3 separate regions of the Homo sapiens genome follow, and regions 1 and 3 are each linked to region 2. The links come from fine-mapping of genetic effects on gene expression. A gene starts in region 2. Each other region holds a variant in brackets. All regions are shown on one strand. Distances are from middle to middle. Region 1 overlaps SLCO3A1 (solute carrier organic anion transporter family member 3A1). Region 2 holds the start of SLCO3A1 (solute carrier organic anion transporter family member 3A1). Region 3 overlaps SLCO3A1 (solute carrier organic anion transporter family member 3A1).

Evidence for each region. PIP is the estimated chance that this variant, and not a neighbour inherited with it, causes the effect. A credible set is the group of variants that fine-mapping cannot tell apart.
Region 1: its variant is the best candidate, but not a certain one, in a credible set for the expression of SLCO3A1 in whole blood (TOPMed, PIP 0.83).
Region 3: its variant is the best candidate, but not a certain one, in a credible set for the expression of SLCO3A1 in cerebellum (GTEx, PIP 0.72).

What each region holds. Positions count from the first base shown.
Region 1 is chr15:92,162,902-92,168,369 of GRCh38, forward strand. SLCO3A1 (solute carrier organic anion transporter family member 3A1) reads left to right here. Exons shown (of 10, transcript NM_013272.4): 10 at 1-3,002. The coding sequence ends at 234. Among named protein-coding and RNA genes, the nearest start is that of ST8SIA2, 230 kb to the right of the region's middle. RefSeq lists an enhancer at 1,738-2,495. The variant C/T (reference allele first, on the strand shown) is at 2,172.
Region 2 is chr15:91,850,684-91,856,151 of GRCh38, forward strand. SLCO3A1 (solute carrier organic anion transporter family member 3A1) reads left to right here and starts at 3,025. Exons shown (of 10, transcript NM_013272.4): 1 at 3,025-3,405. The coding sequence starts at 3,226. RefSeq lists silencers at 2,447-2,621, 2,490-2,629.
Region 3 is chr15:92,056,602-92,062,069 of GRCh38, forward strand. The region is part of intron 2 of SLCO3A1 (solute carrier organic anion transporter family member 3A1); the gene reads left to right. Among named protein-coding and RNA genes, the nearest start is that of SLCO3A1, 210 kb to the left of the region's middle. The variant C/G (reference allele first, on the strand shown) is at 2,912.

The DNA.
Region 1 (5,468 bases), 310 kb after region 2:
AAATCCTTCGCCTTCATCCTGTACACCACCACGTGGCAGTGCCTGAGGAAAAACTATAAACGCTACATCAAAAACCACGAGGGCGGGCTGAGCACCAGTGAGTTCTTTGCCTCTACTCTGACCCTAGACAACCTGGGGAGGGACCCTGTGCCCGCAAACCAGACACATAGGACAAAGTTTATCTATAACCTGGAAGACCATGAGTGGTGTGAAAACATGGAGTCCGTTTTATAGTGACTAAAGGAGGGCTGAACTCTGTATTAGTAATCCAAGGGTCATTTTTTTCTTAAAAAAAGAAAAAAAGGTTCCAAAAAAAACCAAAACTCAGTACACACACACAGGCACAGATGCACACACACGCAGACAGACACACCGACTTTGTCCTTTTTCTCAGCATCAGAGCCAGACAGGATTCAGAATAAGGAGAGAATGACATCGTGCGGCAGGGTCCTGGAGGCCACTTGCGCGGCTGGGCCACAGAGTCTACTTTGAAGGCACCTCATGGTTTTCAGGATGCTGACAGCTGCAAGCAACAGGCACTGCCAAATTCAGGGAACAGTGGTGGCCAGCTTGGAGGATGGACATTTCTGGATACACATACACATACAAAACAGAAAACATTTTTTAAAAGAAGTTTCCTAAAATAAAAAAAATTAAAAAAAAAAAACCCACAAGTTGAAAACATTGCCAGATTAAGCACTAGTGACACACCCCGTGCCACCCTCTTCCTCCAGGTGGGGGTGGGGGCGGGCGCACAAGTCGGAGGGGTGGAAGCACCACTCCTCTCTCTGACTTTCGCAATATGGGTCACTGTGTAGACGACTCACCCAGTCTGCATGTGGTTCAAGGCCCCAGAGTTCTCTCAGTGATGCTAATGGGTGATCCGTGCTGGAGTTTGTAATTGGCACCTCTCACCAGCTCCATTTCCATGTTCAAGACTGAGGGCCTGAGGGGGAGCCAGGTGGGGGGCCAGCACCTCCCAGTGGCGGGCATCCACCTTCCCCCAGCCCCACAGAGTGACCTCAGGAAGCAGTAGGCCTCGCCTGGCTATGACTGACCCGGCTCAGAGCTGGTGAGACCCAACGCAGTCCAAGTCATTTGCTTACATTTGCCAAAAACATTTTGCCATTTTTAAAAGAAAAAAATACAATCCATATGAATTTCAAACTGTTGTATGTATAATCCTCTAATACTATTTTTAACTACTTCTAAAATCTGTGTTAACCCTTCAAGTCACTAACACAGTTCTCTAGGCCGGATTTATTATGCTGGTTGCTTTTACTTTTTTTCTCCTTTTTTAATGCACCAAAAATATGTGATACAAGGGATGCAATTAACCTATTGTAATTTTCATCATTTTATCCTCATTCGAATATTCTACAAAAACAAGAATATACAATGTGTTACAAGAAGAAAAAAAAATGCTTCAAAAAGAGAGTGTATATGCAGCCTGCCTTTAAAAGAATCACATTTGAGACAACAGGGGATAATGTGATGAATTGCAAATTTGCCTTTTAGCTTCCTTCCCCATGATTCAGTGATCACTGTCACGGGAAACCCTTTTATATTCATGCTTGACATTCCAAGAGGCGTTCTTTTCAGCCTGTGGAGGAGACACTCTTAGATGTGGGTTTGTGTGTATGGGTGCAACACTTCCGGGGATAGGAAAGAAGAACAGTTCCCTAACACAAGCTGTTAAGAAGTCTGTAGCATCTCTGATAACGAATAGACCCACAAGCTCCTGGAAGCTGTCGTGTGTCCAATGCGTGAAAATGTCTGTGACATTTTCAGTGTTAGTCTTGAACTAAGGCCCTTGTCTGTGTGTTTTGAAGGTGGGTGAACCTCAGAGAATGAACCTGTTATGATTTGGGGTAAGAATCACGTTGGAAAACCTCTCGCAACCAGCACACTAGGCCTTCTACGGCCATTTCTGTAAGGGGACAGAGCTTAGGTAAAGGCACACACTCATACACACACAACAAAGGGCCCTGCTAACTTACTCCTCATGCTGCTTCAGTGACCTTTGTTCATGTCACATTCCTGGCGCTGGAAAAAAAACTCAAAGGTTGATTGGTTTGCTTTTTCACCTTGGACACATTTGCATTTTACCCACAAGGCAAACAAAAGAATCAGGAAGTAAAAAATGGTTGGGAGTGGGACAGGTATGGTAC[C/T]GAATTTTTAATGAACATTGTAAATGAAGAGGCTTGAATGACAGCCCAAATCTAGAGAAGGCACTCAGCAAGACCAACCAAAAGAAAAGCTGTGTCGTGGTATGGGGCCACCGTGATCAGCTACCTGGGGCAGGATGCTTCTGAGACAGGCCTTTCAACTGCTTAGTGTTAGTATGTCCTTGCTTATGAAAATGGGGACACTCATCAGTACGTTAACTACTAAAGGGGAGATGGTTCTCCAACCACTTCATAAAATATGTATGTTCTGTTGTTCCTAAGGCTTTGATAATATCCTGTACAGATTTTGGTTTAGTTTTGCAAATATATTGCTAATAGGTCACTCTTATAGATTATTGCTTGGCCCTTCAAACTCAGTACACACACACTGAGGCCCTTTGACCTAGTGTTTTATGGAACTATTTGCTTTGAGAGAAAAAAAAAAGAAAGTTTTTTAAACTCTTTGCATTTTGGATTTTTTTTCCTAAGATTTTAGGATGAATGTGAAAAAGATGTTAGAATAACAGGAAGACAACTCCAGGGCTGAGTTTTATCAGCAATTGGGTATAAATTTAAAGACCGCTGTTGCAGGATGGCTCTGAATTCTGTTGTGTCGTCTTTTAAAATTTTAATTATTCTCATATAGTACCGAACAGAAAACTCAGTCTAGTTTTAATTTGCCTTTTGTGCTCTAAAGAAGCATTGTACATACAACACTAGATCCAGCCCCTCGATTATCTGTTTGGTTTCAAGTGAATGAAAAGATTTCCTGGTAAGATCATTGGATTTACAGAATACAAAAATGTACGGGATGGAATAAACCTAGAAAGTGAATGCTAGAGTTCTCTCTCTTCTGCTACAAACTCCTACACCATCTCAGCTGAACATGCCCAGGGTGGATGAAAAGTCTCTCTCTGCTGAAATTGACAGATCTTTGTAACTCCTACGTAGAGACAAAGAAGGTTTGGGTTTTGTTTTGTTTTTTGTTTTGTTTTGTTTTGTTTTTCTACCAATATCATTCCCTCCTATGAAGTAAGCACATTTTGCAAAAATGCCTCTCTAGGGGACAGGGTTTGCTGTCTTCTCTCAGCTGAGGCTGTGTGCTCTCAGGGAACGCTGGCTCTGAGGCACCCTGGGGGACAGGGCTCCAGAAGGCCACAGCATGGCATGCGGGCTTTCCTCACAGCTAGCGAAGGAGTGGAAGCAGCCTCCTCTCACGGTCCCCCCGAGGAGCTTGCTAGGAACACTTAACAGGCAAAATAATAACTGGAAAGCCAGGAGCTCCTAAGGAATCATTTGACAGGGTTGCTAACGTCTTCCTAGCAGGAGGGAGCGTGCCCCTCCATAAAAATCACTTCCTTCTCACCATCTGATCATGGAATAACTCGCTCTAGTGCTGACTTTTAAAGATTGGTTGAGTGTCATCTGTACATTCCAGTCCCCCGATTCCACTGCCCTGTGTCCAGTAATTGCCCTCCAGCTTCCCCTCACTCACACTATGGCAGGGCTTCCCAGCCCTTACAGTCAAAAAGCCTGCAGAAACGTTCCACACAAGGGCAACCAGCTGGTCCCTGGGATGGTAGTCACACCACTCTTGAGGAATTTTCCCAGGAAAAAGATTCTCCTGTGGTTGCTAATGGATATTCTTTCACACCTTCCAGAGGAGGTCATTCACTGAGGAACATTTAAAATGGAGATAGATACATGTACTAAAATAGAAAAACCTCCAAGGAAAAGTAGTTTCTGGGTCCCCGTGTGCCTGCTGGGCTGGTTTTCTTGCCGCCTGCTGCTTCCGGTCCTAGGAAGTCTGGTTTCTTCTCCACCCAGCCATGCCTGCCAGACCTGTGCAGTCTGCTCTAAGCCCTGCTAGGAACTCCAAAGGCCCTACTCAGCAGTGGCAAGCTATGAAGGTCAGTGCATAGAGGTCAATGCATCTGATCATACAGTCAAGACCAGAAAAACAGGATGAGCTTCTGTTGCAGTTGGACGGAGTTACGCTATATTTTATTGTTGCTTGAATATTTTATTTGATTTGGTTTAGATGAGGGAAGAAACCATGCAGTTTTTTCAGTCTAACAGATGGAGAATACTTCCCGCTGCCTGGTGCTATTCTTACCTGACTATCTTGATGGCTTGGGAGAACCACATATCTGGCCAGAAGCCAGAGGAAAGTACCAGACACATGGCAGGGGCCTGCTGGCTCCACTGGGCTCACGCCATTCTCCTCTGATTGACCTCCTCTCAACCATGATCCATGTTTCCTTTTAGGGACCGTTCCCCCTTAGGTTAGAATCCACTTCAAATATCTAAGAGGTGCCAACTTTTCCAAGAGAGGGTGCTAGTGAAATTAAATTTGGCCTGGAAAATTAGTTCAAGACCCAAATATAGTATTTATCCATTTTCTAACCTTCCTTCCTTTTTTATTACACCTGCTCCGCCCGACTTATTCCAAACTGCTACTCTCACAACAGCCGCAAGAACGTAATCCCTTACAGTAAACCACCCTAAGTGACAGACTTTGGACCCCACGCCCCTAGTGTACTGTCATTGCTCAAGAGTAAATTGGAATACTCTCTCACTGGTGGAAGATGCAAGGCAGATTTTTGTTCAAATGCCTCTTATGGGGCCTGTTGCCTAGAACAGCATGTGGAATCCACCCTGAATGCATGCAGCCACCCACGCCTGCCTCATCAGTAGCTTCAGCAACCCAGAATGCTTGGTCGTCATGGCAGGGACAACATGGGTTATCAAACCTAAAATGGAAAATTTTGGAAAGCAAAGATGGCCCTGTCCCTTAGAAACCTGTGACTGCCATGGAGACAGGGACAACTCACACTTCTCAGAGACTATCCACATTAGCATTTTTCTTTGCAGAGTTTATTTGGGCGTGCATTGCATGAGTTTGATATATTCAAAACATGTATTTTTTCATTCCTTTACTTAAAATTTTGGCTATATGCCAAGCCCTAGATCAGATGCAAAAGTGGAAAAGTTTTGGTCCCTACCCTCCAAGAACCCCCATTTCAATGAGCTGGACAGATCTGAACACAAACAAAACCAATGGGATAATAGTATTAAGAGCTAGGGTCTGTCTGGGGATAAGGAGAGCCAATTCATGATGGTGGTGAGTTCTGCCTCATGGCAGCAAGAATCAGGAAGGCTCTGGAGAGTGGGTGGCCTAGAAACTAAGAACTAAAGAGCAGTGGGTGACTTTTGGGGAAGCAGGGTGAGAAGATGAGGGCAGAATTGCCCCCAGAGAGAGCGCCACCAAAACATTCACAAGTTTTTTCTCTAATGGGC
Region 2 (5,468 bases):
ATACAGGACATAGAAGTACTTCATAAGCATTAACGTGCTGTACAGATACAAGGATGTTTACTATTTTTCTGCTGCTTCCTCTATCTGCATACGGGGCTAGGGGAATGCCAAGCAGAAGCACTTGGTGCTCATAAACCCACCTTATCATCCCTGGAGCCCTGATCTACAAGTAAATAAAGGATGAGCAAAGAAGGAAGGGAGTTGAACTTGTTAAATTCCTTCTTTCTGACTGTTGTGAGGCCGCAGCCTGATTTCCCTGAGGCTGACTTTGATGATTCTTTAGGCTTCAGGCACCAGGATTACTTTCATGGCTGCTTACCATTAATTATAGGAAGAATCCACAACCCTAATCCGAAATCCTTTATCTGACAGCAAAAGTGTGTGATTTCTCTAAAGACAGCTAATTTTTTAATCTAAAATAAATGGTTAAGCTGAAAGAAGGCTGTGCCCTTCTCAGTCTGTACATGAGGCATTGTGGCATAGAACAAAAAGGGCTGGCCGGGCGTGGTGGCTCATGCCTGTAATCCCAGCACTTTGGGAGGCTGAGGCAGGTGGATCACCTGAGATCAGAGTTCGAGACCAGCCTGACCAACATTAAGAAACCCCGTCTCTATTAAAAATACAAAATTAGCCGGGTGTGGTGGCACGTCTGTAATTCCAGCTACTCCAGAGGCTGAGGCAGGAGAATCACTGAAACCCGGGAGGTGGAGGTTGCCATGGGCCGAGATCGCACCATTGCACTCCAGCCTGGGCAACAAGAGCGAAACTCCATCTCAAACAAACAAACAAACAAAAAAGAACAAAAAGGGCTGGACATGGATGCAAGTTTTGTTCCTTTCCAGCTTTATAAAAGAGGAACAACATAAGTCCCAGCCTCCCCATCAGATGAACCACACTGCGTGATAAACGAGATAATATGTATGTAGTTATAAAGAACCTGGGCTATGATGGCAGACAACCTGGTTTTCAAAGACTTGCCCTGCCACTTACTAGACAAGTGACACTGGTCAGGTTAACCTTTCTAGGCCTCAGTTGTCTCATCTGTAAAACAAGGCTAATAATAGTATCTGGTTTAGAGGATTGCTGTGAGGATTACGTTGTAAATGCGGGTGAAGCACTGAGAATGGTGTCTGGCCATAATAAGCACACAGTAAACATTAGCTCTTGTTATTACAAAGAATGTAAATAAGAGTTGAAGACTATAAAGCACTCCGCACATTTCATTAGCAATGGGGTCACCATTCGTAGACAAGTCTCAGCTCAGCTTTGCAGCTTACCGTCACAGAGGCAGGGAACAGAGCTAGCTTGTCAAGGGTCTTCTCAGGAGGAAGTGGGGAGGTAGCCCATGAAGCAAAGTGATGGGGAGGGAAAGAGGGGGACATAAAGATCCTGCAGAGAAGTTGGCTCCGAGTGATAGGAGGGTGTGGGGAAGAAAGAAGGGGGCAGTAAGGATTCTCATTATAGGACTGGCCGGGAATGGTGTGACCACTGATTCAGGAAGTGGGGAAGACGGGAAGAGACTTCAAGTGTGGGGGGAGCCAATTCAGATAGGAGGTGGCCTAGACAAGGTGAGGGCATCTCAAAGCGACACCAAGCCTGGGTGAGATCACGTCTGGAGCCACAGAAGGATGAAGCAGTTTATATTTAAATGCCATGGCAAAACAACATCCCCACCATTACACCCTCCATTCTCATTCAAGTTCTTCGGGAGAAAGGAAAAATATGGTCGGGTTCATTGCTATTCAGTTTTGAAGTTGAGCCTGCATTTGGACACAGGCGCTTGGGAGAGTGGGTCATTTTCTTTGACACAATTATTAAGGAAACCGTTTTAAATGATTCCTTGAGTCCCCCAATGGCCCAGGTGGAAGGTGCTGTTTCCTGGTACCTGTCCAGCCCTCTGAGCTTTTCTCTCAGCTTCCAAACGCTGCAGTTGAGAACTAGCAGATCCTATTGGTAGTGCCCTGTGGCCCACACTCCTTGGTAACGGTGAGAGTGGGGAGTAATTAGGAGCGGCTGCCATGGGCCAGGCATTCAGGTCAAGGCCGAGGATGGTGGCCAGGGCCACAGAGCCAGGGGACGGGTGGGGACCCAGCAGGCCTGCGGCTGGCCGCTTGCTGAGCGCTCCAGCAGCGGGGCCCTGGGCGGATGAAGGGCCGGAGAAGGCCCTCTGCTGGGGCCGCGGCGATCTTGCAGCGCCTGGACACCGAGGCTGGGGCACTAACGGTCCGTGGGGCTCCCGACGTATTCCTCTAACTTCCCCTTTCTGTCCTTTCGGTCTGGGGCCTTTTCAACACCCCCTGTGGCCGGGGACAGCTGGGGCAGAAACCGGCAGGCGGCAGAAGCCTCAAGCAGCTCTGACCTCTGGCACCTCCCCAAGACCCAGAGCACAACATCTGTCCCCAGAAATCCCCGGGCGGAGAAGAGCGCGCGCCAAGCCCTTCCTGGGTACTCAGTATTCTCCCTTCCTGGGAACAGCCTGCCCTCTGAGGCCTGGGCACCCGGGTTCCCGAGCGCCGGGTCCCAGCCCCGCGGGGGCGCCTCCGCACCCCATCTCCGCGCCCGGCGCAGAGCCGCCAGTCTCCGCCGCGGGGCCCCGTGCCCCGCAGCGCCACCTAGGGGCCGGGCGCCGCCTCCCGCCCTCAGGGGCACCCCCCTTACTCCGCAAGGACTCCGGGTCTCCCCAGTTCTCCCGGCAGCCGGACCCTCCCAGCCTCGGCCGCCGGGCCGCCCTCCGCATCCCAAGCCCGCCTCCCGTGCCTCCCCGGGGGCGCACCGGCAGCGAGGAGCGGCTCGGCGAGGGCGCGCAGCGGCGGCCCAGGCCCAGGCCTTGGGGCTGGGGCTGAGGGGGTGAGAGCAGGCGCGGCCGGCGGGCAAGGGGAACCGGGCGATGGCAGCGGCGGGCGGCCGCGGGAGGCGAGGCAGCGGCGGCGGCGGGCGGCGCGACGAGCCCCTGTGATTGGCACAGCCGGAGCCGGAGGAGGAGGCCAGGGGAGGGCGGAGGCGGGGGAGGAGGAGGAGGAAGGGGCGATCGCGGCGGCGGCGGCGGCGGCGAGGAGCTGTGCCTTCCACCTCTCCAGCCCCGGCAGGACGGGGGCGGCCGCCGCGAACCCGGGGCGGGGACAGCACGCAGCCTCGAGGCGCGCACCCCCGCCCGGCAGCGGCCCCGACACCCGGGGCGAGCGGGAAAGCGGCAGCGGCGGCGGCGGCGGCGGCGGCGGGGGAAGGATGCAGGGGAAGAAGCCGGGCGGTTCGTCGGGCGGCGGCCGGAGCGGCGAGCTGCAGGGGGACGAGGCGCAGAGGAACAAGAAAAAGAAAAAGAAGGTGTCCTGCTTTTCCAACATCAAGATCTTCCTGGTGTCCGAGTGCGCCCTGATGCTGGCGCAGGGCACGGTGGGCGCCTACCTGGTGAGTCCCCGAGCCAACTCCGCCGCGGGCCCCTTCCCCAGCCCGGCTCTCGAGCGGCCGCCTGGCCCGACGAGGGGGCCGCCCGGCGCTGGGGGCAGGCGGGCATGACCTCGGCCCGGCGTGGAGGTTGGCGAGTGGTGCAGAGGCGGCCGCCGGGGGAGCTGCCGGCCGGGGCTGCCAGCGAGCGGGTAGCGGGCGGGACCGTTGATGCCGGTAGCAGCTCGCGCGCGTCCGGCTGGGGCAGGGGGTGCCGGGGGAGGAGAGGCGGCGGGCAGGTGGGCGTGAAACTATTCCTCTCCCCCCATAAGAGCGGAGCGAGACGGTGAGTTCAGGGTTCTCCTTGGAGAGGAACGAAAAAGCGTCGGGGTTTTCAGGTGACCTGCACATGGGAAGAAAAACCAGTTAGCATCCTGCGTCCTCTACTCTCCATTGCATCCTCCTCGAGAACAAATCTATTATGCATCATTTTCTCCGGGCGCTTTCTACATCCGCCAATTACAGGGGGATATAACAGCTTAGAGTGAAATGCGCCCTAGTGTGGCCCTGGCCTGAGCCGGGGCTGCAGGGGGAATATTGCCACCCGGTATCCCTATAGCCCTCTTTGAGCGTCTGGGATAAAGTTACGGTACCTAGAGAGCAGCTGCGAGTTTGTGTAGTTCCTGCTATCCACTCTTAGTGCTAAATTCCCCATCGTGGTCTGTCGCCTACAGAAGGTTGCACCATTTTCCACAATGAATATGTATTTTATTTGCCTCCAGAAAGGGGATGTTAATGCTCAGAGGGCCCATGGGTGCGTAACATTTCAGAGGAAACAGCTTGTAATGACTCAGCACTGTCAGGTACCTACTTTGTCGCTTTCGCCTCCTCTGCTCAGGTGGTCGCAACTTGAGTTCCAGAGAGCGTGCTTCCACACCTAAGTACAGTCCTGTCTAAACGGGAAATTTTTTTTGAGAGTTTATAGTGTTAAATCATTACTTGGCTATTGACCCGCAACTGGAATCAAATGTCATAGACTTTGAGTATTCCTGAGCAAGTTTGATGGAGATAGAATTGGACAAGATTTTGGCCATTGAATAACCACATCCAGAGATAGAACCACGCGTATCCTGATGCTATGATTAATCCCTCATTCCTGGCCTTGGGGTAAAGTTCATGAGGGCCAGACGCTGGGGGCTGTATACCATTCATAAACTATCTCTTAAGGCTCAGGGCTCACTGTTAAAGGGAAATACAAGCAGTGCTTGGTCTCCGGTGTTGAGGAAGTTAGGTGGTTGTGAGAGAGGGGGTCTTCAAACTCAGCTCTGTTCCTGGGGTGACAGAATTTCAGGGCTTTTGAAAATCAAATACATTTCTGTTGCTCATTCTGAGACGAAAAGCGTTTACATCCCGGTCTCTGTCTTGTGCATTCGTAACTTGTAGACTGCAAGTGAACCCTGTAGTCAAAAGCATACCTTGTTTTCTGTTCTATAAAATACACTTATTGTGTCTATAGTTATAATATGCAGTTGCAGACAGTACCTATTAGCCCTTGGAATTTGAGGGATAGGGGATAATTGTGTTTTGGGAGTCAGTTTATCGGCACTTCCTTAGGGGAAATTTAACTGTTAAAATATTTAAATAAGTACATGTATTACAGAGATGCAAATTCACATTAATAAAATATATGTGGGTCTGTACTGTGACATATGCAAAGTACATAATACCTAACCGGGTCTATGTTTAGAAGGAGGTAATTAGTATATCAACAGCTGCCTCCACTTTAACGGTTTGTTTGCCTCAAACCAATTTTGCTCGGTAGAGTGCATTATTCATGTGTGGCAAACACCCGCAGAACTTTTCACCCCAGGAGTGATAAAAGCGTGGGCTTACTATTTTTCGGTTGCAGTGATCTAAGGATTTGACAAATAAATGAAGCTGGGCTGCAACTAGATGAATGGCCTAGCTCCTTTAGAAAGTTAAGAAGCCGAGTACTCCTGGAGTGGTGGACTTCTGGAGGCAGGGCTGGCCCCAGGAGATAGGAGGTTGACTTTAATCCCAGAACAGGGGAATGGCAAGCAGAGGAG
Region 3 (5,468 bases), 210 kb after region 2:
ACTTCCTTCTCTCCAAAGCCATGTTCCCTATAATTTCCCTTTCAAACAATTTGCAATTGTTCTAATATCCAGTTGAGGTCTGTTCAGACCTTCACCGCTCTACCTTCACTTTTCCGCTGAGAAAAGGCACCTCTTATCACTGTCCCCTGCCTAAGAAAGCCTTGCTGGCAGCAGCATGGGTAGGGTTTATGGGAGTACCTGGACTTCAGGATCCTCAGGATAAATTGCAGCATCCAGAGTTGATTGGAGAGAACAAGCTCAACCCCTTCCCACTTTTAGCTTTCTTTACTGTGGAAGGATTTGGCTTTTAGGTTTCTTTACTGTGTTACCCAGTTAATTCTTTCATAATGGAAAGACAAACATCATGTCAGTTTCTCCCTCCTGCCAGAAAATACATTCCCAAACATCTCAAGGTCTCCCTGTCTGTGCCCTTCCAGAAGGTAGCCCTTGCCTGGCAGTTGCCCTTCTGGGCTATCAGAGCACCCAGCCAGCTGCTCTGCTGTGCCCGTCTCAGGAAGCCTGGCAGGCACATAAGTCCATTCTTAGCTTTCTGTCATTCCAAGCCGAAGGTGCTGGGGCCTGATTGCCACCTGGACTGCCGGTAAGAAGGCTGGAACTCGGGCAAGGCTGCAGAGGGAAGAGTGGGTCCCATGCCCCTTCCCTAGGGCAGCCCTGCAGCCTGGCAGCCCGTCATTTCACTGAGCAAAGGGATCTCAGGAAAAGCCAGCTTAGAAGAGAGATTACTGTATTCGTTTTCTTATTACTCTCAAGGTGCTTGCTTTTTCCTGAAGATAATGGTTAGAACTGAGAATATTGGCAGGCTCCAAGCATCACACACAGTCCTTGGAAAAAAACAAAATACAGTGGATTTTCACTCCCAACATGGAGAGGGTCCCAGGGACTGATGTGCCTATCTTCCCAGAAGTGCAGAAGCAGACCAGGAGACCAGTCCATCTGTGAGGACACAGTCCCAGAGAGATAGATTTTCCTCAGGCCCCACCTTTGGGGATGGAGAATCCAGCCCCATCCAGACCCAGCGCTTGAGCCTCCAGACATTGACCAGAATGTCTGCTGCTTCTTGATGCGAGTTCTCCTAGAACCTCATGTGCCAGCCAGCTAAAAGAATCACTGATAATCAGAGGCTGCATGAGCTGTCAGAGCCATCCCATTTCTCAGTGGACAAATGAGCACATTTGGTTGCAGAAGGGAGAGGGGCCTTGCCCTCGGCGACACCAGGGGACTAACAGAACCTGAATGTGGACCCAGCTTTGATGATGGTTAATAATAATGCTTATTATTAAACAAAGCCCAACTCTTTGCTGGGCAGTGTTCAAAGCTAATGGCATTTGCCATCTCTCCTTTTTATTGTAAGTATGATACATCCTATTGTCCCCAGATTCCCAGGTGAGGAAACAAGAAGCAGAGAAGTGGTGTGACTTGCCCGTGGTCACACAGCGGGTAAGGGGTCAGCTGAATTTGGACTTGAGCCTCATCATCACTATTGATTAAATGCAGCCATCTTCTAATGCTGCGCTAGGTTCCTGTATAAGCGTGAGAGTGTGTGAGTGTGTGTGTGTGTGTTTGTGCACGCCTGATCCGTGTAGCATCTCTAGAAGGTGGAGGGTGTTTCCACAGATCCAGAAACTGAGGTCAAGTCCTGAGAGTCTAAGTTCAGTGCCCTTTCTGCTATTTAAGGGAAAGAGGCCTGTCTGTGAGTTCTAACCCTATACATAAAGAATAAATGGGGTTCATTATTGAGTTTTTCCCCTTTTATTCTGTAAGTTAAAATCAACCAAATGATTGAGTTTTACCCCTCACCCATCCCCTAAGCCCATTCCTTTTAAGGGAATGGCCTTCAGATGACCTTGAAGATAGGATGTTGGGTGTCCCGCAGGGTATGGCTACACCCCACTGGATGACCCCACCTGCTATCCCATGGAAGAGAAGAACAGGCAAATGTGGCCCATCACCCCATTCACGTAGGGACACCTAGTGTTCTCTGGGAGATGAATATTCCAAACCCACATCACCATAGTCCCCATCAGGGATAATGCTTTCCTGGGGCTGCAGAAACAAAGTACCATAAACTGGGTGGCTCAAAGCAACCCAAATGTATTCTTTCACAGTCCTAGAAGCCAGAACTCCACGATCAAGGTGTCTTAGGGTTAACTTCTTCTGGAGGCTCTAAGGAAGAATCTGTGCCTGCCCCGCCTGCCTTCTGGTGGTTGCTGGCAATGCGAGGTGTTATTTGGCTTAGAGACACGTCCCTTCAATCTCTGCCTGCAATGGCCTTCCCCTCTGTGCCTGTGTCTTTCTCTCCTTTCTCTTAGAAGGACATCAGTCATTGTATTTAGAGCCTATCCTGAGATCCTTCATTTCATCTTCAGTGACTCTTATTTCCAAATGCATCGCACTCACAAGTGCTGGCGTCAGGGTTGGAGCAGTATCTGTTTGAAGGCACTATCCAACCCACTCTGTCACTGCTCTGTCATGGTATATCAGCAGCTGGGGAAGCAGTTGGAAGTCTCGGGGTAACTGAGCTTTCCCCTTTCCATCTCCACCCTCTCTTACCAAGTAGATCAACCTCTTCCCTAGGGGGGTGTTTCCTGTCACAGAGAAAGGCCAAAGCCAGCGTGCTAGAACAGGTTTCTGCAAGGACACTGTTACCTGTCTGTTTCCAAGAAGCTGTCGGGTGCCCTGTGGCTGGGCTGGTTTAGCTTTCTCTCTGCCCTCAGGCAGGGGGCTGGGTTCCATAACTTCCCAAAGCCCTTTGCAACCGGGGCACACACCACTTTCTCTGGCAGCATGGGTCCATCCTCAGGAGTGTCACATTCCCCATGCTTCTTCCGTCACCCTTGTCCAGCACTTTTCCCCAGGGCTTCACAGGACACATGCCTGGCCCTCAGGGAAG[C/G]TTGTCACTTCACTCATTATCCCGCCTGTGAGCAGCGGCTGGCAGTGTGCCCACCGTGAGCTCTGTGCCCCCGACCAGATGGCACACGAGGAGCCCAGGGCTGCTCATTCCACAGTAAGCCTAGTGGCTGGCTTCCCTGGATTTAGATATCAAAATTCACATTGGTGGAGAGAAGAGGGCTGTATCGATGCAGGGGTCTCTACACTGAGGCCTCCTTTAGCACAGAAGACCCTGTGACCTCATCAGACCAGCATTGCTGCCCAGAGCCCTAACACAGCCTGATAAGTGCATATCACTGTAGTCAGTCATGCATGGCTTAATGATGAAGACACTTTCTGAGAAATGCGTCGTTAGGCAATTTTGTCATTGCGGGGACATCACAGGGTGTACTCACACAAACTCAGATGGTGTATCCTACCGTACACCTAGGCTATAGGGTGTAGCCTGTTGTTCCTAGGCTACAAACCTGTACAGCATGTGACTGTACTGAATACTGTAGGCAGTTGCAACGCAACGGTAAGCATTTGTGTATCTAAACATAGAAAAGGCACAGTAAAACTACAGCATAAAAGATAAACAGTGGTACACCTATAGAGGGCACTTACCATGAATGGAGCTTGCAGGACTGGAAGTTGCTCTGGGTGAGTCAGTGAGTGAGTGGTGAGTGAATGTGAATGCCTAGGACAGTATTGTACACTCCTGTACCATAGGCTACACTACATTTATTTCAAAAAAATTTTCTTCACAAATAAATTAACCTTAGCCAGCTGGGCTCGGTGGTTCATGCCTGTAATCCCAGTAGTTTGGGAGGCCAAGGTAGGCAGATCATTTGAGGTCAGGAGTTCAAGACCAGCCTGGCCAACATCGCGAAACCCTGTCTCTACTAAAAATACAAAAATTAGCTGGGCGCTGTGATGCACGCCTGTAATCCCAGCTACTCGGGAGGCTGAGGCACGCTTGAACCTGGGAGGCAGAGGTTGCAGTGAGCCGAGTTTTTTTTTTTTGGAGACGGACTCTCGCTCTGTCACCCAGGCTGGAGTGCAGTGGCGCAAGCTCGGCTCACTGCAACCTCCGCCTCCGGGGTTCAGGCAGTTCTCCTGCCTCAGCCTCCCAAGTAACTGGGACTACAGACGCACAGTGCCATGCCTGGCTAATTTTTTGTATTTTAGTAGAGACGGGGTTTCACCATGTTGTCCGGGCTGGTTTTGAACTCCTGAGCTCAGGCAATCTGCCCGCCTCAGCCTCCCAAAGTGCTAGGATTACAGGCATGAGCCACTGTGCCCGGCCGGTACTTTTTAATAAAATTTTTATTTTTGTTCACTTTTTAAACATTTTTGTTAAAAACTAAGATAAAACATACACATTAACCTTGGCCTACCCAGAATCAGGATCATCAAGACATAATTGGGTGATGGAGATTTTGCAGCTTCATTATTATCTTATGGGACCACTGTCATTGTATTCGAGGTTCATCATTGACTGAAACATTTGTTACACAGTTCATGGCTATATTTGGATCTGAGCTCCTGCAGGCACTGTCTCATATTTTGACATCCACAGTAATTAATGACGTGCCTTATACGTGTTCGGTGAGTAAGTGTTTGTAAATTAATGTTTGTGAATTAGCATTTTCCCTCTTTTCTACCTTTGCACTGGGGTCTGGTATACATAGGTGCCTAATAAATGATCCTTGTTCTTCTGGGTTTCCCCTCTCCTTCCATGAGTCTAGGGGTGTTTAGAGGCTGACTGGCTCATGCCCACAGCTCAGCCCTAATAATATTTCAGGATCACAAATATCAGACTGAGAGTGGACAGAAATGAATGTGGACATGGATGAAAGGGAGGGCTTGTCTGAGTTCCATCCCAGGGATCAAAGAGGAAGAGATGCACAGCAGAAGAGATCTTCTCTCCACTCCCCACTGGCATTTGATTCAAACTCCTAGTTCCTTAGTAGCTGCCCCTCTGAAGGTCCTGAGAGACTGAGACTTCCCAAGCGTTTGTTCACTGAATCACTCCAGAAGTGTCCTCTTACTGGGATTAGCTATGAAATCTCTAAAACCCAAAGAGCTAATAGGGCTGTTGGCTGTTGGGAAGATCCTAAGAAAGCTAAGAGGTGGAGGAGGTGCACCCACTGTCCATCCCCACTGGCCACCGTGGTGGAGATGGGGAGCTACAGGAGGTTCCAGGCCCTCAGGAAAGCAGAGAGTTGAACAGCATGCTAGCAAAACAGGCCAGAAGGACCAGGAGCCTGCCGGGTTGTCCTCCTAGGCAACCCATCACCCTGTTAGACGCTCCTATGGGTTTGTTTGTGGATGCACATGTACATCCTTACACAAGGGCCTCCCCTTTGGGAGCCACAAGGGTTTAGCTACATGGTCATGTCAAGGCTCTGGGTGATACAGGGCAAGATCTGGATTTTGGCAACCCTGTGGCAGTCACGCATCTGCCACCATCCAGATGGCATTGACAGACAGCGCCCCAACTCACACCCAGCCCTCCCTGGAGCTCCCACTGCCTTACGTCACTACATGTTGCCCCGGGCCCCTCCTGGAGGCCT